Homo sapiens: one gene and its partners. The protein of the gene in region 1 interacts with the protein of each later gene in a biochemical or structural test. Each region holds a gene or a part of one and is shown in the gene's direction. Other genes may lie near its edges. The genes, in order: FLNA, RALA, NRP1 and DCN.

What was found.
Region 2: the proteins of FLNA (region 1) and RALA form a complex in vitro, tested with the Homo sapiens proteins (one study listed by BioGRID).
Region 3: the proteins of FLNA (region 1) and NRP1 interact in a biophysical measurement, tested with the Homo sapiens proteins (one study listed by IntAct).
Region 4: the proteins of FLNA (region 1) and DCN form a complex in vitro, tested with the Homo sapiens proteins (one study listed by BioGRID).

What each region holds. Positions count from the first base shown.
Region 1 is NC_000023.11:154,364,635-154,372,326, reverse strand, and holds part of FLNA (filamin-A), read left to right. Parts: intron 1-965; 5' UTR 966-1,081; coding exon 1,082-1,454; intron 1,455-4,236; coding exon 4,237-4,485; intron 4,486-4,588; coding exon 4,589-4,686; intron 4,687-4,782; coding exon 4,783-4,930; intron 4,931-5,476; coding exon 5,477-5,595; intron 5,596-5,687; coding exon 5,688-5,765; intron 5,766-5,856; coding exon 5,857-6,019; intron 6,020-6,102; coding exon 6,103-6,303; intron 6,304-6,840; coding exon 6,841-6,978; intron 6,979-7,067; coding exon 7,068-7,191; intron 7,192-7,369; coding exon 7,370-7,506; intron 7,507-7,607; coding exon 7,608-7,692. UniProt on the Homo sapiens protein: Promotes orthogonal branching of actin filaments and links actin filaments to membrane glycoproteins. Anchors various transmembrane proteins to the actin cytoskeleton and serves as a scaffold for a wide range of cytoplasmic signaling proteins.
Region 2 is NC_000007.14:39,696,459-39,704,150, forward strand, and holds part of RALA (ras-related protein Ral-A precursor), read left to right. Parts: intron 1-226; coding exon 227-401; intron 402-7,692. UniProt on the Homo sapiens protein: Multifunctional GTPase involved in a variety of cellular processes including gene expression, cell migration, cell proliferation, oncogenic transformation and membrane trafficking.
Region 3 is NC_000010.11:33,177,254-33,184,945, reverse strand, and holds the end of NRP1 (neuropilin-1 isoform a precursor), read left to right. Parts: intron 1-2,197; coding exon 2,198-2,248; intron 2,249-4,580; coding exon 4,581-4,870; 3' UTR 4,871-7,453; downstream 7,454-7,692. UniProt on the Homo sapiens protein: Cell-surface receptor involved in the development of the cardiovascular system, in angiogenesis, in the formation of certain neuronal circuits and in organogenesis outside the nervous system. Mediates the chemorepulsant activity of semaphorins.
Region 4 is NC_000012.12:91,179,340-91,187,574, reverse strand, and holds the start of DCN (decorin isoform a preproprotein), read left to right. Parts: upstream 1-4,757; 5' UTR 4,758-4,920; intron 4,921-8,095; exon of another isoform or gene 8,096-8,213; intron 8,214-8,235. UniProt on the Homo sapiens protein: May affect the rate of fibrils formation.

The sequences.
Region 1 (7,692 bases):
CACGCTGGGCTGAGGGGACTTTCCGACAGGAGAGGACCCCCCGCTTCAGCTCCCCCCAGTGCCCCGGGTGAACTGGCATGAAGGGTTAGGCGGGCACACGTCTCTGCATGCATCGCACGGCGCCCTCTGCCCGCGCCCACTGGCGTGCCCGTGGGCATGCCCGGACCCCTTCGAAGGCTGCTTGCTCCTGGAGTGCCGGCGGCCTCCTGGCCCAGTGCCCCATATCCTCCCGGGTGGAGGGAAGCAGAGAGGGAGGCGGTGGGAAGCAGCGGGCACAGGTGCGCGGGCGAGGGCCCTACGGACTGGGAAGGCGGGCCCGTGGCAGGGGGTCTGCGGGGACCGCGTAGGCGCAGGCCTTGCCCTGCAGCCGCTTCCCAGGTGATGAGCACACAAAGCGCCCTCGGCAGTGCCTGGTCCGGGGCTGCCGCTCTCCAGGGGTTCGCTCTTAGGGTTGGCCCCTTCCCGCCGCTGCCGGGCCGGCGGACGGGGATGCCGCCGGGGAACCCTAGGCCCTGGGGGCCCGGGGAAGGGGGATGACGGCGGGGGGTAGGGATGTGCAGGGACGGGGCAGAGCCCAAGTGACTTAGGGAAGAGAGCCACCCCACCCCCCGCAGGGGCCCTGGGGAAGGAAAGTCCCTTGTAAGGCGCGCCGGCTGCAGGCCAAGCAGTCCCGCGCCAGACACTGCTCAGCCTTTCCTCGCTCTAGGGCGCGTTTCCTGCAGCGCCAACGCGAGGCTGCGGGGCTGGGAGCATCCTTGCCCACCCCACTGCCCAGCGACCCACCCTGGAGCCCGGGTTTCGCGTCTGATCAGCCGAACCCGGGGGCCTAGTGGGGGCATTCCAACGGGCGGGGCGGGGTGGGGCAGGCGCGCCCTCGAAGCCCCACCCCACGGCCCCTCCCCGCAGGAGGCCCGCCCTCTGGCCCCGCCCTCCTCCCGCATTTAAAGGGCTCGCTCTCTCCGCAGCGCAACCTCTGCTCCCTGCCTCGCCTCCCGCGCGCCTAGGTGCCTGCGACTTTAATTAAAGGGCCGTCCCCTCGCCGAGGCTGCAGCACCGCCCCCCCGGCTTCTCGCGCCTCAAAATGAGTAGCTCCCACTCTCGGGCGGGCCAGAGCGCAGCAGGCGCGGCTCCGGGCGGCGGCGTCGACACGCGGGACGCCGAGATGCCGGCCACCGAGAAGGACCTGGCGGAGGACGCGCCGTGGAAGAAGATCCAGCAGAACACTTTCACGCGCTGGTGCAACGAGCACCTGAAGTGCGTGAGCAAGCGCATCGCCAACCTGCAGACGGACCTGAGCGACGGGCTGCGGCTTATCGCGCTGTTGGAGGTGCTCAGCCAGAAGAAGATGCACCGCAAGCACAACCAGCGGCCCACTTTCCGCCAAATGCAGCTTGAGAACGTGTCGGTGGCGCTCGAGTTCCTGGACCGCGAGAGCATCAAACTGGTGTCCATCGGTGAGGGACGCCCCGAAGCGCCGGGCGGGCGGGGGCGGGGACTCCGTGCGTCCTTCCATCTCCCCGGGCGGACCCCTCCAAACCACCCCCTTCCGGGCCGCAGCGCAACTCCCGAGGCCTCCGGCTGCTCTGCTCCACGCGGGCCTGCAGAACAAAGGCGCGCGGGCTGGCTGGCTGGCCGGCCGGGCGTGCGAACCGCTACGCGCCCCCGCCCGCTGCGCCCCGGCTGGCCGGCGCCCAGGCTGAACTCACATCCTCCGCAGGCCGCGCCTCCGCGGCTGTGCTCGCGGTGGGAGTGGGCCTGGGGGGTCGGGCACTGGGCAGGCTCCTGGCCCTGCGCCCCGTCCCCGAGGAGGAGGAGGCCCGGGCTCTCCCCCCACAGCTGTTTAGAGAGGGCCCTCTGGCCTTCAGAGGCCCGTTGGTTCTGAAGTGTGGGTTGGAGCTCGTGCGTCCCATTGTCTGGGGCTCTGGGCTCTTTGTGTCCCTGGAGGATGGGTCGCCCATCGGAGATGGCTCCAACCACCAGTTTAGATCTACCCCCCCACACACACACAGGCAACCTGGGGGCCAGAAAGAAGCATAGTTAGCAAAACTGCACCCGGGGTGAGTTGGGCGTGGTTGACTGAGAGACCTGGCTTGTAGACTACTTGGACGCCAACTTTTCTCTTCATCTTGGGCCAAACTCTTGCTTCCATGTAGGCCTTGCTTTTCTGCGTGTAGCACGCAGGAGTTGGTTGGTAGATGCTCCAGCGTGCATTGTGCCAGCCCAGTGTCTGTGTCACTGGACTGGAGAGGCTGGCATTGACCAGGCCTGCTGCAGCAGCCCAATTCGTTCTCAAGATAGGGGCTGCATGAGAGGGCAGGCCCCAGAATGGGTGACTCGGGGGTGATGTGGAACAGGGAGAGGAGAGGGATGATGAGTCTTCTCTTCTTCAGAATTGAGAGGCCTTCCAGTTACCCTGCAGCCCTGGAATGGCCCTTGCTGAACCCAAGAAAGTGAGGGACCAAGACTTGGGTTCCCCCAGCCACTCAGAGGGCAGATCCCAAGAACCAAAGTTCTTTCTTTGGAATGCCAGTTGAGGCGAGGGGCAGGCCCACCCCCACAAGTCCCAGCCTCAGTCTAGCCAAGCTGAGTCATCTCAGTCCTGGATGGTAGGGGGGGCGACCGGATGTGGGGAGGCGGGCCACACCCCAGCTCTTTAGGGGGGGTCTCCTCCCTCCTCCCAGCTCCCCTCCTCCTTGTGAGCTGGCTGGAGCAGGCCTAGTTCCCAGAGCTTTGCCATATAAGGCAAAAAAATGTTGGAAAGCAGCAGTGATTAGGGGAGGGAGGGGTTGGCTGGCCCAGGGGCTGGGGAAAGGGGGGTGGGATGGGGCGGGGCCATCCAGCCAGACAGTCTCCCAGCCCTGGGCCCTGGTCCTTCCCTCTCTCTTTTGGGAGGGGGATGGGGACGGAGTAGGCTGGCCTAACATGGACCTGGTGGGCCTGGTTGCTCCCCGTGTGGGGGTCGTTGAGGGGTCTGAGGCTGGACTGGGGTGGGGGCCTGATGGGAAGCCCTGGCTGGCCTTGTTCCCTGGCCCTGCACCCTTGGTCCTCTCCGAGTCCCCCTCCCTGCTGCCATTTGGGGAGAGTGAAAGGCAGCCTCGTGGGGCCAGGACCAACCTGGGAACTGGGGAGGCCACTCTGAGCGGCTCACCTGGCCCTCCAGGTGCTGCCTGCTGGGCTGGGAAGCAGCTGCCATGGACAGCCCAGCCCCTCCTCATAGGCCCGCCCCCTAGTTGACTCACCAGAGAAGTATTTTGTCTGATTATGGGGGAGGCTGACAGGGCTTCTAAAGATGAGCCATCCTGCCTTGAGCCTGAGACCCAGAAGTAGCCTTGGGTGGGGCCCAGAGCCCAGCAGGGTTGCCATGGTGATGGGGGGTGTCAGGGACCCGCCCTAACCACTTCCCCTGTGGCGAGCCTGCCGAGGCCCAGAGGCCCGTTAGGTGGCAAGTGGGTCAGGCAGTGGGTGGCAAGGGGGTTCCCAGTGTCTCCTGCTGCCACCCCGGCATCTCCCGATGGGCCCCAGTGAGTCAGGGCCATGTGGCCCAACTGCTGGTTCCTTTGGGCTCTGGGCCCCTCCCCTGGCTAGGCCTGTGGCCTCCCAACTCCAAGCTTGAGTCTTCGAGGTGGTAGAGGAAGTGGGGGTGGTGGCGGGGGTCACAATCCCTCACCCAAAGGGCGTTTGCCCAACTCCCCCACTTCCCCTGCCTCACCCCACCCACCCTGGAACAACAGTTGTATTTCCCAACCACCCAGGGCCACCCACCTTCCTCTTCCTCAGCCCCAGCCCCACTCCAGGTCATGGGCCCTGGATTCTGGGCCAGCTGGAGTCAGCCTCCTCCTCCTGGTTCCCCATAGGCCCCTGAGGTGTGTGGCGGACCCCTGCTCTGGCAGCTGTGGACACTGTCCAGCTGTTCTCCAGAGCTGCCCATCTGCAGGCTGGGTCTGCCCTCTGCCCTTCCTCTGGGCCCAGGGCTTCTGGCAGTAATCATACCCTGCTGGCATCGTGTGTGTGTGTCTGTGTGTATCTGCCCTCACCCCAAAGTCTCCTTCACCTCTGAACACCCCCTGGGACCCTGGGCAGAGAGGGCCTCATCCACATCCTACCACTGGCCAAGAGGGGGTGTCTACCTCCTCCTTGGCCCCTGCTACCCCGTGCTGCCAGACCCTGACCCCAAAGCCTGGGATCGGCCCCTCCCGCACAGCCGTGTGCCCAGCGTGGCCACTCTTCTACTCACAGACAGCAAGGCCATCGTGGACGGGAACCTGAAGCTGATCCTGGGCCTCATCTGGACCCTGATCCTGCACTACTCCATCTCCATGCCCATGTGGGACGAGGAGGAGGATGAGGAGGCCAAGAAGCAGACCCCCAAGCAGAGGCTCCTGGGCTGGATCCAGAACAAGCTGCCGCAGCTGCCCATCACCAACTTCAGCCGGGACTGGCAGAGCGGCCGGGCCCTGGGCGCCCTGGTGGACAGCTGTGCCCCGGGTGAGGGGGCGCAGAGGCAGGAGAGACTGGGCTGGGGTCACCCATGGGTGGCCCTTGAGGGGGTTCTGCGGCCCCCAGACTCACAGCCTCCCTTGCGCCACAGGCCTGTGTCCTGACTGGGACTCTTGGGACGCCAGCAAGCCCGTTACCAATGCGCGAGAGGCCATGCAGCAGGCGGATGACTGGCTGGGCATCCCCCAGGTACACCCGCCCGGCCTGGCTACAGCTGTAGGGGACCGGATCGGCAGTTGGGAGAGACTCGGAGGCCCGATGGCTCCTGTTTTCTGCCTGTGACAGGTGATCACCCCCGAGGAGATTGTGGACCCCAACGTGGACGAGCACTCTGTCATGACCTACCTGTCCCAGTTCCCCAAGGCCAAGCTGAAGCCAGGGGCTCCCTTGCGGCCCAAACTGAACCCGAAGAAAGCCCGTGCCTACGGGCCAGGTGAGGGAGCCCCACCAGGGGTGCACCCGTGTGCCAACGTCTTCCCCATAAGACAGTGTCCCATCTAAACGTGGCGGTCCCCAGGGGTCTTGGGTTACATGGCGGCTAGGTGATCAAGCCACCCAAGAGTCAGACAAGAGTGGGTTTTTGGGACTAGTGAAAACGACAAGAGAATGCTAATAGGTTCCTCCAGTCACAGAAGCCTGCTGCGTGGGGTCCTCGGGGAGGTAGCATCCAGCGGTCTTTATTATAAATGGAGATGAACCAGGTCTCAGTAACAGGGACCTAAAACCCAGTCAAGGCTCACACAGGAACAAGGGCCCAGTGCGGTGAGAATGAATGTTCCAGAAAACAGGCTGGGCCTGTCCCAGCAGCGAGAGCACAGCTGGGTCCCGAGGCCAGGCTCTGTGCCACAGCTCACACTGAATGAACTTGCCCAGTTTGGAATGTGCCTGACTTAGGGGCCAGCAGGGAGGGCTGAAGGGTGGAGGGGTGAGGCTGTGGCCTTAACAGCTGGCCCGTGGTTGGCTCGCCTTCCCCTGCCAGGCATCGAGCCCACAGGCAACATGGTGAAGAAGCGGGCAGAGTTCACTGTGGAGACCAGAAGTGCTGGCCAGGGAGAGGTGCTGGTGTACGTGGAGGACCCGGCCGGACACCAGGAGGAGGTAGGGCCAGCTGCTGGCAGCAGAGGCCCCGCAGCGCTCCCTTTCAGTGGGGCTGCTCTTAGCAAAGGCTCACAGGCTCCTTCCCACTGCAGGCAAAAGTGACCGCCAATAACGACAAGAACCGCACCTTCTCCGTCTGGTACGTCCCCGAGGTGACGGGGACTCATAAGGTGAGCCCTTGGCCAGGGGGGAGGCTTGTGACCTCAGGCAGTGGCTGGAGGCCCCCAGCCCTACCCTCACGGCCCACCCTTCTGGGGACAGGTTACTGTGCTCTTTGCTGGCCAGCACATCGCCAAGAGCCCCTTCGAGGTGTACGTGGATAAGTCACAGGGTGACGCCAGCAAAGTGACAGCCCAAGGTCCCGGCCTGGAGCCCAGTGGCAACATCGCCAACAAGACCACCTACTTTGAGATCTTTACGGCAGGTGAGGGGAGGCTGCCAAGGCCCAGCTGGTCTGTGGGGAGAGCCGCACTGGGGCCTGGGAGCTGAGCAGGTGCCTCGTGGCAGGAGCTGGCACGGGCGAGGTCGAGGTTGTGATCCAGGACCCCATGGGACAGAAGGGCACGGTAGAGCCTCAGCTGGAGGCCCGGGGCGACAGCACATACCGCTGCAGCTACCAGCCCACCATGGAGGGCGTCCACACCGTGCACGTCACGTTTGCCGGCGTGCCCATCCCTCGCAGCCCCTACACTGTCACTGTTGGCCAAGGTAGGCCCGGCCCTGACTGCCCTCTGCTGTGGCACTGCAGTCTGGGCCTCCCACAGGAGGGGGACCCCCTGGGCCAGTCCCGCTGCAGCCCGCCCCGGGGCCCCTACTCTTTGAGCTTCTACTGTCTGGGCACATGCTGTTTTTCCTCCCCTGCTGGGGCCCTTCCTCCTCTCCTCTCCTCGCCCCTCTCCATCTCTCTCCTCACGCTTTCACCTTCGGAAGAGCTCGCTCCAGCTGTCTAGAAACCTGCTGCTCTCTGCTCTGCCCACAGGGTCAACGGTACTTGGATCTGTCTTCTTCTTGGAAGGGGGAGGGTGGGGGGCTCTGGGCTGGTGTGGAGCAGGTGGGAGGAGGCCTGCCATGTCCTGGCCCAGGCCACAGTTCCTGGGGTCACAGTCCCTTCCAGTTCTGTCTTGCATGTCCCCCTCCAGCCAAGCTCTGAGGGACCCACCAATCCTGACAGCCCGGCCCTGTGGGAGGCAAGGGAGGGGTCGCCCAGCCGAGCTGCTGGTGCTCAGCTGGCCCCTCTGCCTGCAGCCTGTAACCCGAGTGCCTGCCGGGCGGTTGGCCGGGGCCTCCAGCCCAAGGGTGTGCGGGTGAAGGAGACAGCTGACTTCAAGGTGTACACAAAGGGCGCTGGCAGTGGGGAGCTGAAGGTCACCGTGAAGGGCCCCAGTAAGTTGGCCTGGAGCCAGGCCAGGATGGGTGGCGGCAGCCCCCGGGTTCACTGCTGGGCAGGCCTGAGGCCCTCCTTGTCTTGGCAGAGGGAGAGGAGCGCGTGAAGCAGAAGGACCTGGGGGATGGCGTGTATGGCTTCGAGTATTACCCCATGGTCCCTGGAACCTATATCGTCACCATCACGTGGGGTGGTCAGAACATCGGGCGCAGGTGAGGCCCCCAGGCATCCCTCTCCCAGCTCTGCACACTCTGCCTCTTCTCTTCCTTCTGCCTCCCCACCTGATGATGAGGGGCCACATGGGCTCTTCCTGCCTGGCCGCCACAGTGGGGCCCACGCTGGCTCATGTGGTGATCCTCGGTGTTCCCTGTGTGGCTCTCGCATTTGCAGTCCCTTCGAAGTGAAGGTGGGCACCGAGTGTGGCAATCAGAAGGTACGGGCCTGGGGCCCTGGGCTGGAGGGCGGCGTCGTTGGCAAGTCAGCAGACTTTGTGGTGGAGGCTATCGGGGACGACGTGGGCACGCTGGGTAAGTTGGAGGCTGCAGCATGGGCACCTGGGGACAGACGATGGCAAGGACGGCCCACCCTGAGGCTCCAGGGCACTGAGGGGACTGGTGGCTGTTGTCAGGCTTCTCGGTGGAAGGGCCATCGCAGGCTAAGATCGAATGTGACGACAAGGGCGACGGCTCCTGTGATGTGCGCTACTGGCCGCA
Region 2 (7,692 bases), on another chromosome or scaffold:
GGATGGGATCCTGGAACAGAAAAAGGATGTCAGGCAAAAAGCAAGCACATTTGAATAAAGTTTGGACCTTAGTTGCTAATACTGTATCGATATTGGTTCATTAATTGTGATTTGTGTACCACAGTAGTAGATGTTAACAATAGGGAAAAATAGGTATGGGGCAAACAAGAACTTTCTGTGCTATCCTTATAATGTTAATATTTCTTTTTCATTTTCTCTTATCCAGGGAGCAGATTTTAAGAGTAAAAGAAGATGAGAATGTTCCATTTCTACTGGTTGGTAACAAATCAGATTTAGAAGATAAAAGACAGGTTTCTGTAGAAGAGGCAAAAAACAGAGCTGAGCAGTGGAATGTTAACTACGTGGAAACATCTGCTAAAACACGAGCTAATGTTGACAAGGTAACACGTGACTCTTTACTACTGCATCATGTTAAAATAGGTTGGTTTGCTTTAACTTGGCTCCATTTTGTCTGGAGAGTCTATGAAACTTTCAAATAGAGGTTTAATCCTTGTTGATTTTTATCATCCCTGAATACTCAGATACATGTTAGGAATTTTAGTTCACCTTGTCCTTAGCTTCCCAAGAGACATTAAAACATGAGACACTACAGCTAAATGTACTTTTTTTCTTTTTAAAGCACTGATGGCATTCCTGACTTTTTTCCCCCCTTATCCTATTGAGTCTTTGGATAATTTAGAAGGAATCGTGTGAGTCCCAAGATTCCAGCACTAAACCGTTCTTACCTCTGACCTGACATCTACCCAACCCCACTTAAGTTCTTAAAAATAAGGGTACCTCCCAAGATGAAGAAGCCCCCAGATAAGAGCGTTTTAAAATCTCTCCTGCCACTCTCCACTCCCCACCCTCAACCTTTGTTTTCTCCTGAAAGAGAAAGAAAGGAAAGTAAACACTCTGCCCTCCTTTCTTGTCTTCTCGCTTTGTTCAGAGTGGCCCTTCCTGAAGACCAGATGTGGAACACCTGCAAGTACATTTCATCCCACTGCCCTAGACCAGCTCCAGTATCTAGAAAGACTGCTCACTGGGCTGAGGTAGCACAGAATCTTAAAGGCCTCCAAGTGGGGTCTTTCTTCAGCCTGCAAGTATCTAGGCTCTATAGTGTGCCTCTCAAGCTCCAATAGGCAAAAGAACTGCCTGTAAATCTTGATAAACACACATTCTTGGGTCTTACCCCTAGAGATTTGGATTCATTTGGTCTGGAATGGGGCCTAAGAATTTATGATTCTAGCAAGTGCTGCATGTGCTTGTAGATTTATAACCCTGATCCAGAAAGTACTAGGTTAAAAAAAAAGTTTGAGATTTGTTCTGTTATTTTGCTGTAGGTCTTAAGACAGTGTCGTTGCTGTCTTAAGCTTCTTAACTTTTTAAGACATTGTCAGATTCCTTTAGGTCTAAGATATCTGTACAAAGTGAGTACTACAGGATTCTATTCAGGATACGAATTTTTTCTAAGGTTAGGACTAGGGCAAGTGTGTGTGTGTGTGTGTGTGTGTGTATGTGTGTGTATGTGTGTTTTGCTTAAATAACAAAGTTATTTCTCACAGTTCTGGAGGCTGGCGAGTCCAAGATCAAGGTCTTAGACAAAATGATTCTGGAGAGGGCTTTCTTCCTGATTTGCTGGATTTCCTTATACCTTCCTGCTGCATCCTCACATGACAGAGAGAGAGAGATAGCTCTCCTGATTCTTCTTAGGATACTAATTCCATTATGACAACCCTACCCTAGTGACGTAATTACGACCCAAAGGCCCCATCTCTTATTGCCATCACATAAGGAATTCGGGTTTCAGTATATGAATTTTGGGGTGACACAAGCATTCAGTCCATAGCATGCCCTATCATAGTTTCCTGGGAACCATGGTTTCTGAACACAGTAACTAGGGCTTGGGTATTTCAGTTAGCTTCCATTTGGAAATGGGAACAAGAATACCTGCTTCATAGGATTATTGTAAAGATGAAATGAAATCACATATGTAAAATGCCCAGCCTGTGCCTGCCATTTCTAAGTCATTAGAAAATTATAGATTTGAAGAGACAATTTGTATGGCAAATATTTTTAAAATACTAATGAAAATATATGTTAAGATTGAGGGTGTTTGAGGTTTTAAAAGGCAACGTTGAACATTCTCATAGCATATATATACTTTTCTAATCGATGTTTCGAGTAGGTTGTAGAACACACTATAAAAACTATTTGAACCTAAGGGGAGTGGGGAAGAGATGCAGACACTGGCAATCCAAGATAGAAAGCTATATTGTAACAGTCCTTGTGGTGATCATCTGTTGGCATCAGAGGCCCTGGGAAGTATGGTGTCTGTATTAGCACAGCTCTTACAGGACAAAAGCCTAGGGAAAATGGCCCAAAAACAGCAACTGGCATGTCGTAGAAAGGAAACACAAATGGCCTTTAAACTGGAAGAGAGGCTCGGTCTCACTTATAAAAAGGGAAGTACAACTTTAAAATATAGTGGAATGTCCTTTTTTTACCCGTCACTTTGGGAGAAAAAAAGCAAAGAGGTTGAGAATAGAATATACTGTTAGCAAGAGTATAGAAAAACAGGAACCTCTCATATGTTGGTGGAAGGGCAGTTTTGTGATACCCATCAGAATTATGACCCAGCAATTTAAGTGCTAAAAATGTTATTTTTTTTTTTTTTTTTTTTTTTTTTTTTTGAGACGGAGTCTCGCTCTGTCGCCCAGGCCGGACTGCGGACTGCAGTGGCGCAATCTCGGCTCACTGCAAGCTCTGCTTCCCGGGTTCACGCCATTCTCCTGCCTCAGCCTCCCGAGTAGCTGGGACTACAGGCGCCCGCCACCGCGCCCGGCTAATTTTTTGTATTTTTAGTAGAGACGGGGTTTCACCTTGTTAGCCAGGATGGTCTTGATCTCCTGACCTCATGATCCACCCGCCTCGGCCTCCCAAAGTGCTGGGATTACAGGCGTGAGCCACCACGCCCGGCCTAAAAATGTTATTATACAGAACAAATTATGCACTCACGTATACGTGTATGTTCAGTGGTAGTCAGTGAAGCATTATTTTTAGAAGCAAAAGACTGGAAATATCCAAGTGTTCAGTAATGGACTGGTTTAAATAATGGAGTTTTGCCCAACCATTAAAAAGAAATGAGGATAGAACTAAATGTGCTGATATCAGATGATCTTCAATTATAAAGTAAGTGAAACAAAGTACAGAGTGGTGTCTGTAGCTTGCTGCCATGTGTTTTAAACACACATACATACACATTATCTATGTACACATCATAAGGATATGTAAGACTCTGGTACCTGTGGTTGCCTCCAGAGAATTAAGCCACAGTTTATGCTTTTTTCACTGTAAATACCCTTGTGAACTTTTTGCCATATTCATGGACACTTGGCCCTCAAACAACACAGATTTGAGCTGTGCAGATTTTTTTTTCACAGATGCAGTCTGCCTCCATGTCGGTGGGCTCTGCATCCACAACCAAATGCAGACAGAGAATACAGCAGGATGTGAAACCTGCATATGCGGAGGGCTGGCTTTTTGCATCCATGTGTTCTGCAGGGCCAGCTGCGGGACTTGAGTAGGTAGAGATTTTGGGATCCACGGGCATTCTGGAACCAATCCCCCATAGATACTGAGGTACGACTATGTTACTTTTTCAAAAAATAAAAAATAAAATAAAGGTATAAGGCCGTTTTAGTTACTATGGCTGTATAACAAAGTACACCCCAGAACCTTTATGGGTAAAACAGTCATTTATTCTGCTTATACATTCTGTGGCCAAGAATTTGAACAGGGCACAGTGGAAATGGCTTGGCTCTGCTCTACAGTGTCTGCTGCCTCAGCTGAAAGCTTCAAGTCTAGGCACTGGAAATACCTAAACTTAGGTTCTGAAGGCTTGTTCGCACATGTCTGGCTCAGCCAGATGATGCTGGCCATTATCCAAGGATGCCTCAGTTCCTCTCCAGGTGGGCTCCTCCATGTGGCCTTTTCCATGTGTGCTAGTTTAGGCTTCCTCACAGCACAGTGGGCAGAGTCTCCAAGGGCAAGTGTCACAAGAGAAAAAGAACCAGGCAGAAACCATACGGCCTTTTATGACATAGTCTCTGAAGTTATGCAGCATTATTTCTACCTCATTCTACAGGTTGGAGATAGTCACAAAGTCTCACCTAGGTTGAGAAGGAAGGGGAATAGACTTCAGCTCTTGATGAAAAGTGGCAGGATTCTGGAAAAGCACATAGGAAACATTGCTGTGGCCAGTTTCAGTTAATACAGTCTGCAGTCGGTGGTCACCTGTCCAAAACAGAATTACATTAAACGAGGCTGCTTGTAAAGTGAGGTGCAAATCCATACTGAAGACTATAATTTCATGTACTGCTACATCCTGCGGAGTGATTACCAGATAAAGTACCTCAGTGGCTACATAAAAGTCATTTGCAGCAACTATTCAATTTCCAGAATTAGGTTATACTTGTGTTTGTGGTTGTTTTCCTGAGGAAATAATCTAATAATCAGAAAAGCTAATATTTATTTGTGTTTATAAGAGCCAGGCACTGTGGTAAGTACCAACCATTTAATCCTTAATTGTGTGAGGCGTAGATACTCTTCTGATGCTCACTTTTTAGACAAGGAAGCTGCGGTGTGGGGAGATTACGTAACTGGCTCAAGGTCACGGGGTTCGTGGTGGCATCTGCAGCTTCTGGGTCTGGCCAACTCTGGCGCTCACATGCTCACATTCTTTCTTCAATATTTTACTCAAAACAATGGTTGGGGCCAGGTGCCACCACACCTATAATCCCTGCACTCTGGTAGGCCGAGGCAGGCAGATTACTTGAGCCCAGGAGTTTGAGACCAGCCCGGGCAACATGGCAAAAGCCTATCTCTACAAAAAATACAAAAACTAGCCAGGTGTGGTGGCGAATGTCTGTAGTCACAGTTACTTGGGAGGCTGAGACAGGAGGATTGCTTGAGCCTGGGAGGTGGAGGCTGCAGTGAGCCGAGATCATAACCACTACCCTCCAGCCTGGGTAATGGGAGTGAGACCCTATCTCAAAAACAAAACAAAACAATGGTTGGAATAGCTAGTGTATCTCCCATTTCTTATGTCATCCACTACTAGAAGCCTGATCACAAATTTTCAGGAATAGCAAGTGTTATTTCCTTTTATTAAATTGTGAAGTGTCATGCTTTGTCACAGAACAAATGCTAGCTCTCCATAAGATCATTGGCTCATGCGTTATCCTCATCTGGAGTCCAAATAGACCATTAGGTGGAAGTTTCAAAGATGCAGATTTTAAATCTAGTCATGAAAAAGTGTCATAGCCACCAGAGCTGGGGCATGGCATGTCTCAGGAAGCCATGCTTGTCACAGAGGAATCACTCCGAGGCTAAAGGAACATCTGGGCAATCCTACTTGTGTACTCATTGGATTCATTCAGTGACCTTGTTATTATCCTTCTAGCTAAATGCTCTGGGTCTTAATTCACGACTCCAAGGTTGCTCTTGATTTTAAGGAACATTTTGGCAGAATAGAGAGAAGTTGAGCAAATATTAACAGATGTCCAAAGGGGCAGTGTGATTTATTATGTCAAGAGAATCAGTTTTATGTCGAGGGAAGAATTTTGGTAGAAATACACTGTATTTTTTGGAAAATATCATATTTGGGTTTTTTCATTGTATAAGTAATACATGGATACATGCTTATATAAAGAAAAATTCATAATATAGAAACATAAGGAGGAAAAATGAGTCATTTTTCTCCCATAGTTCACTCCTTTCCCCTCCCTTTCAGTAACCAGTGCTAACACGGGTGTGTCTTTCCAGACGTTAAAAGCAGTCATACATATCTCTAAGGGAAAGTTTGCATTTGCTTGTTTTTTCTTCCTGTATTAATAGGATTTGTGTATATATATACACACACGTAATATATTTTGTATCTGTATATATAGAGCATATTTCTGTGGTGCGCTTTTTAAATTTTATGACAAATCCTACAGCTCTTCCATGTCACTGCATATAGATGTATCCACATTCTTTTTAAAACCACAAAGTATTCCATGGTTAGACTTTTCCATAATTCAGCCATTTTCCTATTAATGACATTTATTTGTTACAGCAGTGTTCACAATAGCCAAGATACAGAACCAACCCAAGTGCCAACAACAGATGAATGGATAAAGAAAATGTGATAGATATACACTATAGAGTACTATTCAATCATTGAAAAGGATGAAATCCTGTCATTCATGGCAATATGGATAGAACTGGAGACAATTAAGTGAAATAAGCCAGGAACAGGCAGTTAAACACTGCATGTTCTCATTCATATGTAAAAGCTTAGAAAAAGTTGATCTCATAGAAGTAAAAAATAGAACAGAGAATACTAGAGGCTGGAATGGGAGGGATAGGTAGAGATTTGTTAAATTATACAGAATTACAGCTAGATATGAGGAATGAGCTCTGGTGTACTATACTATTGTAGATGACTATACTTAACAATAATGTATAGTTTCAAATACCTGAAAGGAGGATATTGAATGTTCCCAACACAAATAATAAATGATTGAGATGATGGATGTGCTAATTACCCTGGTCTTAGTCACTGTACGTTATATGTTTCAAAACATCACTGTGTACTCTGTGAATATGTGTCAATTAAACAGACAAAATTCAATTGAAAATAAAATCAGAAATTAAACCTTCATCTAGTTTCCTTTTCATAGTGATTTATCTGCATTAGAAAGCAATACTGGGAGTATTCCAATAATTACATTTAGTCAGAATCGAGACCTCCTGTCCTAGCTAGTTAGCCAGAGACTTGAAACAGAGGTCTTCTGAAATTCCTAGTCTCTGGGGAAATAGAATCACAACCACTAGGGGCAAAAACCCATGGCTTTTATGTCATCATTGTGTTCCGTTCTGTTGCATACTTTGTGTGTGGGTGTGTGTTTTATACTTTTTTCCCTTTAACCGTTTATGCTCCTTCATGTTGGTCCTATGTCCGTTTGACTCAGCCCATTCATCTTTGATAGTTTCGTTGCTTTCTGACTTAAATTTTATGCTTCTTGCTGCAGATCAGGAATCAGCCATTCATCTAAGGAACTCAGGTTCTGTTTAGGAGGAATGATATTTAGCAGCCACAGCATAGTTACATAATTTGCTTGTTGCTATTGTGTTGTCATTTTTCAGTGAATAGTTCTAGGAAATAGGTATTATTAAAAGAAAAAAATGTGATCATGTTGTTATTTCCAATTCAAATTTAACATTACAAATGTTTACATCTTTGATTTTGTACTTGTATCTTTTCTCTTACACTGAAGATCTTGGTTCCTAAATTACATTAACATAATTCCTCCCTTGCATTAATAAAATAGTTCCAAAAGAGCAACATTGCTGTCACAAACAAACTACAAAATGAAGTTTGGCTGGGTGTTGTGGCTCACATCTGTAATTCCAGCACATTTAGAGGCTGAGACAGGTAGATCACCTGAGGTCAGGAGTTCGAGACCAGCCTGGCCAACATGGCAAAACCCCGTCTCTACTAAAAATACAAAAATTAGCCAGACATGGTGGTGCCTGTCTGTAATCCCAGCTACTTGGAAGGCTGAGGCAGGAGAATCTCTTGAACCCGGGAGGCAGAGGTTGCAGTGAGCTGAGATCACGCCATCCCACTCCAGCCTGGGCAACAGA
Region 3 (7,692 bases), on another chromosome or scaffold:
CATTTGCTACATTGAAACTTTTGTTATACATCATTATATAATAGGATGTTAATTATAACAAAATGGGATAAGCCTATTGGGCCAATTTAAGACAAAGGAGGTCTGTTGGCTGTAATGGGGGTTTTGGTCACTTCAGCAACTTACAAAGCTTTTATTATATAATATATTGAATATATATAATCCCTAAAGCGGCAATAATTTGATAGGATCCATCGAAGAAATTGGGCAAAAAGAAAGGAGCAATGAATAAAGGCTTGCTTCTTCATACTATTAAAGGGAATCTGCTTAGTGCTGCACTATTTAGCAAATCTTCACAAGAATGATAAGGCTTAATAGTTTAGTTGCAACTCCTTTACAAATTACCCACATCCATATCTACACTGCTGTAAAAATGTGTATTTCATGTAGTAACACAGTGTCTGTGATTTCTTCACTTCTCCATTCCAAAGTGAGAGTGATGATGGTGATGTTTTGGGATGTGAGAACAAACTCCACAGACTAAAACAAAGAAACGAAATTAAATTCAGTTCAACAAGTTCTAACGAAATTCAATTCGGTTCAACAAGTTCTAACTGACTACATACCATATGCAAAGCAGCATGCGGATGCTCCAGTGAAAGTACATGGCTGAGCCGGGTGCAGTGGCTCACGTCTGTCATCCCAGCACTTTGGGAGGCCGAGGCAGGAGGATCATTTGAGATCAGGAGTTTAGGACCAGCCTGGCCAACATGGCAAAACCCCATCTCTACTAAAAAATACAAAAATTAGCTGGGCGTGGTGGCACGCAGCTGTAGTAATCCCAGCTACTCGGAAGGCTGAGGCAGGAGAATTGCTTGAACCCAGGAGGCGGAAGTTGCAGTGAGCCAAGGTCATACCATTGCACTCCAGCCTAGGCCACAGAGCAAGACCCCATTTCAAAAAAAAGAAAAAAGAAGGAAGGAAGGAAGGGAGAAAAGAAAAGAAAGCACATAGTTGAGACAATTCTATGGGACTTTTTCTTTTCTTGTGATTTGTCCATTTAGCTGTAGTTGCTGCCAGACATTGTAGTGGGAAATTCACAACTACGGCTCCATTAAACCACTTTGTTTATTTGTTTATGCTGCTACCAATAAAAATATGTGTAAGACAATTGTACAATGATTCATCAAATATGCATCCTTGAACATCTGGGTGTGGATGCTATGAGATTATCAACTATTTATTAATCTTTCATTCATTCATACATAGAACAAATATCTATTAAAGCACCTATGATGTGCTAGACACTGTTGTAAATGCTGGAATACAGCAGTGGACAAAGCACTCAAAAATTCCTGCTCTGTACTTAGTACCACAGGAATACTGGAACTCTACTTCTTCAATAGCTATTTTATGTATTTATCTATTTTTGTAATACACAGGGCACAGTCTCTTGCCTCAAAGAGTTGGCATACTATTCGAGAAGCCAAACTAACGCACACTAAATTTAGGAAGCAGTTATCTACAAACTATAGGATGGTCACCATATGTACGAATCTACTTCAGTAGAACCTATATTCACCAGATTTTTTTCCACATTTCAGATGCCAAAACCATGTCTCTTCCCCCTTCTCTTCTTTTTTTTTTTTTTTAAATTTGTTGTTGTTGTTTTTGCTTTTTTGAGACAGGCTCTTGCTTCCGTCACCCAGGGTGGAGTGCAGTGGCACCATCATGGCTCACTGTAAACTCCATCTCCTGGGCACAAGCTCTCCTTCCGCCTCAGCCTCCTAAGCAGCTGGAAAGCTAATTTTTTTATTTTTGTAGAGATGGGATCTCACTATGTTGCCCAGGCTGGTCCTAAACTCCTAGCCTAATGTGGTTCTCCTGCCTTGCCCTCTCAAAGTGCTGGAATTATAGGCACGAGCCAGCATACCCAGCCCACCCTTGTCTCCTAAAACAACAGATTCTGCTAGCAGCAGTGCTACCTGGATTTAGATATGGCACCTTAAAGGCAGTGTTGTGATGTCACATTACCAATTTCCCGGTCATTTAACATTGCCTCTTTATTGATCTGTTTGGTGATTTCTGATTGAACTAAAAAATCCAAAAGGAGCCCAGTAGACACGTGTGTGTGTGTGTGTGTGTGTGTGTGTGCATGTACCTAAAGGTTTGTGTAGTTTGGTGCATTATATTTTGATGGCAGTTCAAATATCTCTTTCAATTTTGTTTGACTTGTCAGAACCAGCAGACCTGGATAAAAAGAACCCAGAAATTAAAATTGATGAAACAGGTAAATTTGTCTTGCTGACCAATTTTTAAAAAATTTTACTATGGCTTTCATTGTGTTTATGAAGAAACTTTGTGGAACTCTAATACACTGGTATGTCAAAAAGTTCAAATAAAAAACATCTATGCCCATGGCCCTGGGTTGGTGCTGTGGATCGGATTGTGCTCACAGAGTACCCACTTCCGAGCTGCCCATAAGACTTGGGGAGCCTCGGTGACGGGTCCTGCTTGTACACCTGGTTGAGCCTGGGAAGTGTGCTCACCCTGGCCCTTCCCTGCCCAGTCTAGAGGTGGAACATAAAGGATAATCAGCTCAAACACACTCAGTTTATCACTACAAAGACAGAAAATTAGTGAAGACTATTTCCATACACAGTTATTTGAAACCAACCGAAATTCTTCTGTTTGTTGATATCCAGCTAGGATCTTTAAGAGACCAGAGCCCAATTTCTGAGATAATCCATTGTGTTTGATTCATCTTTTCCCATCTTCCTCTACTAGAACCTTGGTTTTGTGATGATGATGATGATGATAAGAAGGATTTATTGAAGAGTTAGTATGTTCTGAGCACTTTACTTACCTGATCTTTTTCTTTTCTTTTTTTCTTGAGACAGAGTCTGTCTCTGTCACCCAGGCTTGGAGTGCAGTGGCGTGATCTCAGCTCACTGCAGCCTCCACCTGCCAGGTTCAAGCGATTTTCCTGCCTCAACCTTCCGAGCAGACTACAGGCCCACACCACCACACTCAACTTATTTTTTTGTCTTTTGTAAGGTGGAGTTTCACCATGTTGCCCAGGCTGGTCTTGAATTCCTTAGCTTAAGCAATTCCCTGGCCTCAGCCTCCTAAAGTGCTGGGATTACAGGCGTGAGCCACTGCACCCGTCCTACATACCTTATCTTATTTAATCCTCACAGCAGCTCTAGGGGTTGTATTTGTCCCCATTTTACAGATAGTGAGACTGAAACTTAAGTAGCATAGCTAATTAGGTGGTAGCCTCACACTTTAGCCTGATGAACTATAAATGTGTGTTTTTGCTGAACGCTGCTTTGTGATCAAATGCAAGACCTTTGATCAGAGTTAGGCCTTGCCTGGTATTAGTCTATTCCCAGAAGTTTCCAGATCTCCCAGCCAGCATTGTGGGCTGTTGGACACTTGCTCCACCATCACTCACAGCTGCTGTGTGGATGGTGCTGCACCCTTATCATCAATGCATGTCAGCATCTGTTGCCCTTAGAAATGGGATCCTACTCTATGGCCAGCCGTGGACTTCATAGAGACAAATAAATATTGCACCTTGCTGTTAGTAATATGAACACATTACCAAGTCCACACAGAGATGTAAACTTTATTAGAGGTTGTTTCAAAACAATATTTCATCAAGGGAGAGAGTATTAATATGCCCCAAGGCTTGTTTTCTCTTGGTTAGGGATTTGCATCTCATATTTTTAGTTTTCTTTGATTGGAATCTTTGTTGATCAGAACACCATTAAGTAAACCCCAGGCATATTGTGCGTTAACATTTTCATCCCGTTTCTAGTACCAGGTAATTAGGCTCAAAGCTCCCATGTTAACAATTTCTCCTGTTCCACTCCAAAGAAAACAAGTCCCCAGTGACTGAGCTGCAGAGCAGTGCAACTGTCTCCAGTTAAACTACCAGGGCTGCAAAGATGCTGATTATTAGTAAATGTCTTCTATTTGGCATGACAGACATGGTTTCTCGATTTGAGCCACACTCTGTTTACATGTCAGCAGCAAGCATTCTCTTGTTCTAAAAAATCACTCCTTCTTTACTGAAACTACTGTAGACTTTGGGCAAAATTCGTTTCACTTGAAGATTTTCCATATGGGAGAACAAACACATGCATAAACCATGCCAGATCCTGGAAACAGCACCACGTAGAAGGGCAGCCATGAAGGTTTTTCTTGTGCCTGTTTTGGGGTTAGGTACATGCACTGGGAATGGTAAAATCCCCTTGCTAGACTAATGTGTGACTAAGCATTTTGCAAAACTTAATGATCACCTATCTAGCCAAGGACTGTAAACACAGATTACAATCTAGGACAGATGGGGCTGCATGAAATCTGAGTTAGATGAGCAAGGAACCTCCCAGTTGATCCAGAATGGGTTGTTTCCACGTGCTAAGCAGTCTGTCAGAAGCCCCAGCGCCCACTCCCCTCTACCACCTCCCACACTTCTGTTCCCAACAATGAGTCAGATATGACAGGCAAAACTGGGGTGTGTGATTTGCTCCTGTTTCGTTCCTTTCTATTTTTCTGTCTGCTTTCATCTGGTCTGTTGGCGGTGCTCACGGAGACAATATTGTTTTTTTCCATAGGGAGCACGCCAGGATACGAAGGTGAAGGAGAAGGTGACAAGAACATCTCCAGGAAGCCAGGCAATGTGTTGAAGACCTTAGACCCCATCCTCATCACCATCATAGCCATGAGTGCCCTGGGGGTCCTCCTGGGGGCTGTCTGTGGGGTCGTGCTGTACTGTGCCTGTTGGCATAATGGGATGTCAGAAAGAAACTTGTCTGCCCTGGAGAACTATAACTTTGAACTTGTGGATGGTGTGAAGTTGAAAAAAGACAAACTGAATACACAGAGTACTTATTCGGAGGCATGAAGGCAGACAGAGATGAAAAGACAGTCAAAGGACGGAAGTGGAAGGACGGGAGTGAGCTGGGGAGCTGTTGATCTTTCACTATACAGGCTGGGAAGTGTGTTGATGACCACTGAGCCAGGCTTTTCTCAGGAGCTTCAATGAGTATGGCCGACAGACATGGACAAGGAGCTGTGTTCACCATCGGACTCATGTGCAGTCAGCTTTTTTCCTGTTGGTTTCATTTGAATAATCAGATGCTGGTGTTGAGACCAAGTATGATTGACATAATCATTCATTTCGACCCCTCCTGCCCCTCTCTCTCTCTCTCCTCTCCCCTTTGTGGATTCTTTTTGGAAACTGAGCGAAATCCAAGATGCTGGCACCAAGCGTATTCCGTGTGGCCCTTTGGATGGACATGCTACCTGAAACCCAGTGCCCAGAATATACTAGAATCACCGCATTTCAGTGGACTCCTGAAGTTGTACTTGTGTATAATTGCCCGCGTCGTGCATAGGCAAAGAAGGATTAGGCTGTTTTCTTTTTAAAGTACTGTAGCCTCAGTACTGGTGTAGTGTGTCAGCTCTGTTTACGAAGCAATACTGTCCAGTTTTCTTGCTGTTTTTCCGGTGTTGTACTAAACCTCGTGCTTGTGAACTCCATACAGAAAACGGTGCCATCCCTGAACACGGCTGGCCACTGGGTATACTGCTGACAACCGCAACAACAAAAACACAAATCCTTGGCACTGGCTAGTCTATGTCCTCTCAAGTGCCTTTTTGTTTGTACTGGTTCATTGTGTTACATTAACGACCCACTCTGCTTCTTGCTGGTGAAAGCCCTGCTCTTTAATCAAACTCTGGTGGCCCACTGACTAAGAAGAAAGTTTATTTTCGTGTGAGATGCCAGCCCCTCCGGGCAGGCAAGGGCTCTGAAGATTTGGCAACGTGGCTTAATTGTTCTGCTTTTTCTGTAGTTCAATTTCATGTTTCTTGACCCTTTTGTATAAAGCTACAATATTCTCTCTTATTGTTCTTTCATATGGAATGTATTTTCAAATGTAAACTCTCTTCTCTTTCTCTCTCCTATCTCTCTGTCTTTTTTCTCTCTTAGAATTGGAGGATTTGCCATTGTCCAGGAAAGAAACTTGCAGCTTTAACCTGCTGGGAATGGCAAACGATTTTACTAGACTTTATGTTTAAAAATAAATAAATAAGGGAAATTCCTAACTTTGCCCTCCAAAGTCTAACTTTGGTTTTCTTGTTAACTGGTTAAAGTGACAGTATCTTTTTTCCTTATCTATTCTATTCAAAATGACCTTTGATAGAAATGTTGGCATTTAGTAGAAATAGTGATAAGTTGAGGAAAGAAATAATACAAATTGGCTTTCAAGTGAGACCCAAAGGAAGAACTGGATAAAATCTTCCAAATCCAAAAGCATGAGATTTTTCTATCCAAATATGCAAAAATGACCCAAGAGAACTTTCTTATTTTGCTACTGAGTCACACAAGGGAAGTGGAAGGAAGAACAGTTAATTTAAGAATGAAACTATAAATCCTGATGCCTGGGGGTCAAGTATTTTAAGATAAGAGGGGGAAAAACACATAAAGTCAAACAAATGTTTTAAAAATTCATAACAGCAACCTTGAAAAAATAGACTTAAATGAATGCTTCTAGAAACTTCCAGCGGCTCACAAAGAATAAGCCTGCCTTAGGGCTGGCAACATCTAAGCCTCTAACAGCACAGGGAAGCAAATATCTTACCAGGCAGCCTATGAATTAACCCAAAGAAGCTTTGGTTGGTTTTGGTGGATTTTTATCATGCCATGTTGGACATGAGATTTTTTAGATCTTCCTTCCCACATTGCTAGACGTCTCACTCAAAGACATTTGTTGGGAGTCACATTTGCATCATAGACGAGACAGTCCATTCATCTTAGTTAAATTGGATTGAGAATGCCTTTTGTTTCCAGGAAAATATTGATCACCATGAAAGAAGAATAGTTTTTTGTCCCCAGAGACATTCATTTAGTTGATATAATCCTACCAGAAGGAAAGCACTAAGAAACACTCGTTTGTTGTTTTTAAAGGCAACAGACTTAAAGTTGTCCTCAGCCAAGGAAAAATGATACTGCAACTTTAAAATTTAAAGTATCTTGCACTGATAAATATATTTAAAAATTATATGTTTATAAAGTTATTAATTTGTAAAGGCAGTGTTACAAAATGTTCAGTTTATATTGTTTTAGATTGTTTTGTAATTTTTAAAGGTGTAAAATAACATATTTTTTCTTTATGGAAATCTATAAAACTTTCTGTAGTAAAATGTTTTCATTTTACTGGTATATTATTGCTTCATGTTTTGTACCATCATAAGATTTTGTGCAGATTTTTTTTACAGAAATTATTATTTTCTATGACAATATGACACTTGTAAATTGTTGTTTCAAAATGAACAGCGAAGCCTTAACTTTAAATGACATTTGTATTCTCAGACACTGAGTAGCATAAAAACCACATAGAACTGAACTGTAACTTAAATTCCAAACTATGACTACTACATTCCAAAGAAACAGTTGAATTAAACATTTTCATAAAATATCCCACACCTGATGGCTTTTATTATATTAGCACTGTTCTAGTTAAAGAAGTTGGTGACATGCCACTATCCAATAACTTCCAAGATTTTTAAAAATTCTCTTTTTTAAAATATCCTGATAAGGAGAGAAGATTAAGAAGACATTTTCTGAAAGTAGAATCTCAACTCACATTGGACCCTGTCATGATAAGGAATACGGAATTTGACGTTAGGAATGGGAATGATCCTAAATTGTGTGTCAAATGT
Region 4 (8,235 bases), on another chromosome or scaffold:
CTAGATTTGATTTTCTAAAATAATAATTGGATCATGTTATTACCTCATTCAATTACCTTTGATAACATCTAGATTCAAGCATAATAATTGGCACATATTCATCAACAAATTAATATTTGATGAACAAATGAATGAATAAATGTATAAGTGCTCCATGGGAGAATTTCAAGTCCTTCCACAGTTAGACCTTACCCTCATTTATTTCATTATCTCCTTTTAGTTATTTCCATAAACATGGGACATTAATTTATTGTGTGACTTTGACATGTCAGATACCATGAGAGTTACTGAATGTTCAAAGAAATAAAGGAACTCAAGGCTTCTTTGAAAGAAAGTATCTGCTTAAGCCACATTGATTTATTTATTGTCTTCTGCTTTCCCATTGCCAAGGTTTGTTAGTGTCATTTTGCCAACATAAAAAGCCATTTCTTTCTTTTCTCTCCATGCATATTCTTTTCATCCCTCAGGATTTAGCTCAAATTGTACCTTGTTCATTATAAACACTTACCTAACCACTCAAATGTAAAGTGATCCATCCCTCAATCCCTTCTCTGACTTTCTAAGACAATTATTTTAATTACATCATACTTTACTTTGGCCGGGAATTATACATTATAAGTTTTCTGGTATGCTAAAGCTAAAATATTATTATACAAATCTATAGTTTATGCCATATCTCCTTATGCAACATATTTCCCTTGAGGCTATGCCCTTCACATCGTACTTTGTATTTCTTGGTATCTTCCATGGGGCCTGGTATAACACTTCCTCCCACAGTGGTTCCTCAGTCTATATTTTTTGATTAATTGATTGATGAGTTATTGTAAATTTCCTTGTATTTAACAGAGAGGTATGTACCTTGTGCAGACTAATGGATATTCAATAAGTGTTGATTTACTGTCCAAGTACAAACTAATCAATATTATGGAAATAATAATTAATCTTTTAATTAATTACAACTGACAAAAGAGATGCCCCAGAGCATTCAAGAAAAGTCAGGAAATTAAGGAACTGAATATCTCCTTGATACTTTTTAATCTATTTTAATTCATTACTTATCCTTTCCCTGTCTCTATTCCCATTTCTACTTTACTGCTCAGAGTAGAAATTCTTAACCTGGAGTCTCTGTTTCCTTATAAAGTCCATGAATGGATTTCAGCTGGACTTGGAGCCCAATAAAATGTTATGCATAAAGAAAGCCAGGCTGTTATGTAACAACACAAAGTCAAGGCTTAAACGAAAGCTTATCTAGCTCCAAACTATATCATAGCTTAGCTGATTTCTTCTGTTGTTAGGCAGAAAATCCACTGGACTATAAAAGATGTGCAGTCTGGTTATTGTACTGGAGTGTCCAAGGTAAAGTTTGTAATAACAAAAAACACAAGAGAAGCAGCAGCGGAAGCAACAAGTGTTGCTTGAGATGTGTCAGGCACAGTTCTAAATGTTTTATGTATTAAACTTCTTTGAACCTCACTATAAACTCATGAAGGGGATACCACTGTGGCTACTCACATTGTATAGGTTAAAAACCTGGAGAACAAAGAGGTTAAGTTACTTGTACAAGGTACCAGGACACCAAACACAATGGTAAGGGATGGAGGAATAGAGGCATGGGAAGATAGCCAAGGTAAAAGTTGTCTACACCAAATTTTCTTTCAAGCTATTCTGTATTCAAAGTGCCCTCAGTTCCACGCTAGTCATCTTTCTTGGCTAGGGAAGAACTCTGTCTACAGTGGCAACTACAGAGCCAGACAATTCACACCAGACCCAGATCTGACTTTGCAGAGTCAGTCTACAGACAAACCAGTCACATCAGGATTGTGAAGATAATCACTTGCCTCTAGACCTCTTAGAAAGTAAAGGGGTGTCAGAAGGAGACCTTTCTAAGCTCTGGCATTCTTCATATCCTTAATGGGCAGGTACAATTAAATACTTTGTATGTGATGTCAATGAGAGAGAATGGCCCTGAAATGAACTTCGACAATGTGCAGAATACAGTTAACCCTGTTAGCTAGTGGGTTGTCAGTAGAAATCAAAGTTTAAGTAGTTTAACAGTAGATGTGGGATGTGCTCTGAATTGGAATATTTCACATATCTATATGTCAGCCAGGGATTCAGGGAATCCTACCCCAAACATTCCAAGCCAGAATGACTTTAAGCAATCTGTGCACAGTGCTGTTTCTAGTCTTAAAATGGTTCCATTTCATGTTGGATTGCAAGAGACCTGGTTTCTGGTCATAGTGTCATGACCTCTTGGTGACTTAACTGCGTATGACTTTGTTGGGACATAGTTTCTTCTACTGAAAAATGAGTATGACGATAGATGTAACTTGTGATTAAAGATGCAGCTTTTAAATATGATGATGTTTGGTAAAATGCTTGAGATTTTGGAGGTGAGTTTCTTTCCAAACAACAACAACAAAAAGAAAATTTTTATTTGTTCCTGAACAAATTAAATAAAGTTTTAAAAGCATTGCAACTTGGTCATGGTTTGTAAAATAGTCTGAAAAGATGTTATCTCAAAACTTTGATAATTACTTTTCTATATGTAAGAATTTGCTTCCTCTTTCTTAAGATACATTATAGTTTAGTATAGTTTAGTAATGAAAAGTGGATTAGGCATGAGAAGACCTGGATATTAGTTTCTGCTTTGTTTCTTGCCAGCTCTGTGAACTTGGGCAAGTCACTGGGCTTCAATTTTCTCATTTGTAAAACAGAAATAGTAAATATGACTTATCTTGTCTAACTCAAAGGATTGTTTTGAAATATGTCAAGACATAATAAAAGCTTGCATTTACAGAGATTTTCACTTATAAGGATTAAGTTCTGAGTTAAGTGTTTTATATATATTGCCTTATTTAATCTCCACTCCAACACTATGAGTTAGGTAAGAATTTGTATCCATTTTTCAGATATGGAAACTGAAATTCAGAGAGGTTAAGCAAGTTGCCTGAGTTCATATAGCTTACTATCGGGGGGAAGGAACAAGATCTAAATCTTAACCATAATGGTTCTGCTTTTATAAAAGTAAAATTATCTACATAAAAAGGCATTATGTCTTTTTTTCTCCTCCTCCTCATTTTTCTTCTTCTACTTTTTCTTTAATACTTCCTTTTCTCTCTCTCTGTCTTGTAATGATGGCCATAATTTGTCATATACACTTTAGTAGGGTTAAGTTTTGATAAACAGTAAGCCAGGATTGGGGCAAAACACCAGTCCGGGTACGGTCCATAGCCAATCATTTGATTGTCTTTACTAATTTAGCAAATGTATCTTGGTAACTTAGTATATACCATGGCTATTCTGGGTGCAGGGATTCTACAAACATGAACACAATGTCATTCCTCCCTTGGAGTAAGACACGTACATAAATAATTATAATATGAGGCAGGAGTGATTATATGTCATCAAAAAGAGATAAATGCCATATAAGGAGAGTTCAGAAAGGAAATTAATAAATTCCAAGTAAAGGGGATCATGGACTTTTGCACCAATGTCCAGGGACAATAGTGCTTGCCTTTGTCTAAACTATCAGAATAACTAGATATGTGGTTATTAAATGTTAAGGAGATGCAGAGTAGGGTAAATTGTTTATCTGAGAGGCTGGGCTTAGGAAATAAGGCAAACTATAACGTGGTAACACGCCTCCCCCTCCTTAGATACCACTTGAGAATTTAATTTCTCTAAGTTTTTTTGAGGAAAAAGAATATTTACTGTGGAAGAATATACTTTGATGGCTGGAGGAGGGAAGGAAGGAGGCTGGAGGATGGGAGGGGGATCATCTCATGTTTCAAACTGTTGATTTCCAGTTTCCACCTGGTAACAGCCTAGGGGCCAGAGCATAATGATACAAGTCAAAACACAGAGACCTACACAGAGACAACTAACAGCATCCAGCAAGGGAATTATAAAAGCTCAAAAAAGATTTCCAGTGGCTAAATAAATACCTTTCCTTGTAGTTGCACTTGTTTTTCTTTTCATTTACTGAAATTTGGAAAGACACATAGACTCTATTGCCTTTTCAAAGTTCTAGTTTACATAAAAGTATAATCTATGAAAATCAAATTTTTCATATATAGAGGATGAAACTATGTTGTGATCAACTACAGGTTATCTATGTATTTTATTTAAAAACTGGTGGACAGGGAGAAAGATTTTAAACTATGATTAATGAAAGTGATAGATGACATACTTTTCATATAAAACCATGACTTTCTTTCAGGACACTTTAGAAATATGTCCAAAATATACAGAAAAACTCCACAGCATAGTGCTTGAATTTACACAAACATTCCAAGGCAAGTAGGAATCCGAATGAGTAGTTTCACATAAGGCTACTCATTTATTTTTGCAGTCCACATTTAAAACAACTACAAGATTAATTTCATTCCATTTTTCTGGACTTACACATCCCAAAAGCAAGAAAAAAATGTCATTTTGGAAGTATAATAAATGCTACTTGTAAACAAGGCTAGAAAGGGTGGAGAATGAAATGAGATGGGGGGTGGGGAAACAAACCCTTTAGTTACAATATCTTAGGGAAATGAATCTACAATAAGACAAATTTCAAATCAAGTTGCTCCACTATACTGCATAAGCAGTTTAGAATCTTAAGCAGATGCAAAAAGAATAAAGCAAATGGGAGGAAAAAAAAGGCCGATAAAGTTTCTGGCTACAATACAAGAGACATATCATTACCATATGATCTAATGTGGGTGTCAGCCGGATTGTGTTCATTGAGGGAAACCTTATTTTTTAACTGTGCTATGGAGTAGAAGCAGGAGGTTTTCAACCTAGTCACAGAGCAGCACCTACCCCCTCCTCCTTTCCACACCTGCAAACTCTTTTACTTGGGCTGAATATTTAGTGTAATTACATCTCAGCTTTGAGGGCTCCTGTGGCAAATTCCCGGATTAAAAGGTATGGTTTTCAATAATTGTCCTGAACTCTGCTACAGACTAATAAAACTTCGGTCAAGTTGCGAGCAAAAGGGATTATTTGGTGAGAAAAAGAAAAGGAAAAAAAAAACTGTTAAACTTTTATAGTTTTTATGCAACATTTTAAACAAGTATTATTTGAAAACAGAAGTTAAATATTTGATAAAATGATTGAATGCATTGTTTTATTTCTTTCTCTTCTGTTTTTGCAAAGATGCTTCTTAAAAAACTGTAACCTAACACCATGACTCTCTATATTAATGTTTTTGTGTTTGTATTAATGAATGTTTAGCTCTTCAAGAGATGGTAACCGAAAAGTATTCTGAAGTAGCATATCTGTAATTGACCTATATATTTAAAAAATGTATTTTTCTCCTGAATTTTTGATTGCTTTAAGGACTTTTAAAAGCCCAGAAGAACTGAACTCTGGTGATTAGCTGAAAATACCTAATGTATATTTCTTCAACCCCAGAAATGAACAGAAATTATCACCAGAGAAGTGAAAATAAACATTGAAAATATTTATGTTATTAAATGCCTAAGATACTAAAAACGCTGTATAATTTCTTAAATGTAAAGTGTCCCAGTCAGTATCTTCACTGCAAGTGAAATTTTAAGATACATTCACTATAAAATGAGGATGTGGGTTAATTTTCTAATTTTAAAACAGGGTAACACAGTGACCACTGATTAAGTGGGCTCCCAGTGATGTAAATACCTGTGGCTTTTTTTTTTCCTGTTGCTGTTTCTAACCAGAAAAGAGCCAAATGCCTCCTATAGTAACCCTTGTTTGTGGATAAATGCCGCCTTTATTCTTTATTTTAAAATTACATATATTATAATTGAAGTTTTTAATCATCTAGTGCTGTAGGATTTTAATTTTGTTTTGCATTTATAGCTTCACTTATCTCTTGAGGGTTAAATTTTGACTTTGAAAGTGACACCAGAGGCATAGATAACATAATGCAAATGTTGATCTGGATGACATACTTCATTTAATGGGCTTAACTAGTTTTAGGAACCAGAAATTATTATTTTTGGTAAAACATTTGTAAACTATGGCAACTAGCTTCAGTGGAGTAGTGATATTACATTAGTAATTAGCATCTTGGACATTGTCATGCATTTTTAGACTACTTAAAACAGTTTCAGTATAATTTAAACAGCATATCATCTCAATAACAATCTCTTTGGTTACTACTTGGACAGCTGCTCTTTGCTCTTTATATTTCTGATTAATTAAGGAAAGAAGGAAATGACGAAAGGAATTATCAGTATTGACAGCCCACATTAAATGTTTTAAGATGCTGGGTCTTGAAGTACCATGACACTAATTTAAAACAGATGATTTTATGGAAGATTTTGCACAAAGTTTCTGGACATGCAATTATTTTTTCACAGTACAGTCAGGGTTAAATGCACACACACACATACACTCTCTCTCTGTCACACACACATGAACACACACACATACATTCTCTCTCTCTCACACACACACACACACGAGCAAATGAAAATGAAATAAAGGTCGGTGATTGAAGTTATAAGCTGCCTGTCTATATTCAGCTTCAATCAAAAAGAATATTGTTTGGAGAATTTGTACCATTTTAACAGGAGTAAACAAACATAAATTATAATACTATTTCTCTCAGCTAATACTCAACATTTTCTTTTTGTGGGTTGTTAGTGAAACAACCAGGCATGTTCTGCTCTGGAGAAAAGATTTCAAAGTGACATCTGCATTAACTGTCGTTGCTATTTATTAAATCTGCAATGACTTTGCTTCATTTTTCTTTTAAACTTGTAAGACATTAAATATGCAAGGCTAGCAAGCTTGTGGTAAACCATAAACATTGCATTTTTAATGGGAAACAGATACAAAACCACTCCCTCAGATACAATCCAAAGGAACAGGCTGCCAAAACAAAAGTCTTCTCTTAAAGGGATACTCAGTAACTGAATGAGAGTGGGCTGCTAGAAGAAGCTTAATGTTGAACTTAAAGTGGCAGTGTGAATAATAATCTTTATGATATTTTGTTAAATGAAAAGCCACAAGCCTGTATTCAACATGTGCTGCCTTAGACACATATCAGTAGTAAATATAAACTAAGAACAAACATGTAAGAAACTGAAAAACATTTGTTTCTTCTCTAGAGAATCTAGGCAAAAATTCCCAGAAGATACCTTAAGGTTAGATCATACAAAGATCTTTCTTTTCTCTTCTCTTCTTTCTTTCTCTCTCTCTCTCTCTTTCTTTCACTTTCTTCCTTTCTTTCTTTTTCTCTTTCTTTCTTTCCTTTTCTTTCTTCCTTCTTTCTTTCTTTCTTCCTTCCTTCTTTCTTTCTTCTTTTTTTTAATATGCTACAATTGGATAATGACTCAAAACAGCTGTAAGATTCTACTTACGAACGTACAGCTTTAATATGGATTCGTCTAAGTGTACAATTCAAGGTAGAGATGATGGGACTAAATATCTGCTATGATGGGACTAAATATCTACTATGTTTTGGAGATATCAGAATGGTTTCAATGCAATTTAAAAAATATTTCATCTCCCAAATGACTTTGCTGCTATATAATCAAGTACTTTTGTTATTCAGATTTATTACGATTTTGTCACTCAGATTTATTTAGTGCACTTCAGTTGATTTAACAACATAGATTCGTGCTTGTGGAATGAATGGATAAATATGGAATACATTTATCAAAACAATACTTGTTTTTTTACAAAATGCCCTGTTAGCAAAATGAGATCATATATACATCACATAAAAATCAGAATTTTCCATATGTGTTTATTAGCTTATTAAACATAATGTTTGAGAAACTAGGAAATTGATTTATTTTTTAAAGCCGATCTTGCTTATACCAAGTTGAGGTTTTCAATCTGCTTTTTTTATATCAGAAATTCGATACTGAAAAAAAGCTAATTTTGTGTTTTAAAAAATCAGACTGATTGCTTGGAACAAATGGAATAAATCGTCTTGTCAATAAAGTGATGGTCAATTGAGTCATTTGTGTGCAAAATATTGTGCAAGGCCCGGGTACAGAACAAGGAATAATAAGACACGCCCTGAAGGAGTACATCGTCTAGTGAGGGACAGACCAAGCACGCAAAACAAATTGCAATATAATGTGATAAGTTCTTTAAAAGAGGTAAGAGCAACGTGCTTTGGGAGCAGAGAAGAGGGAGAAAGCAGCATCTTGCCTGGATGAGCCAGGGGACACAGAAGAGAAGCCCACTATCTCATTTAATCTTTACAACTCTCTTGCAAGGTCGGTATTCTACATGGCAAGT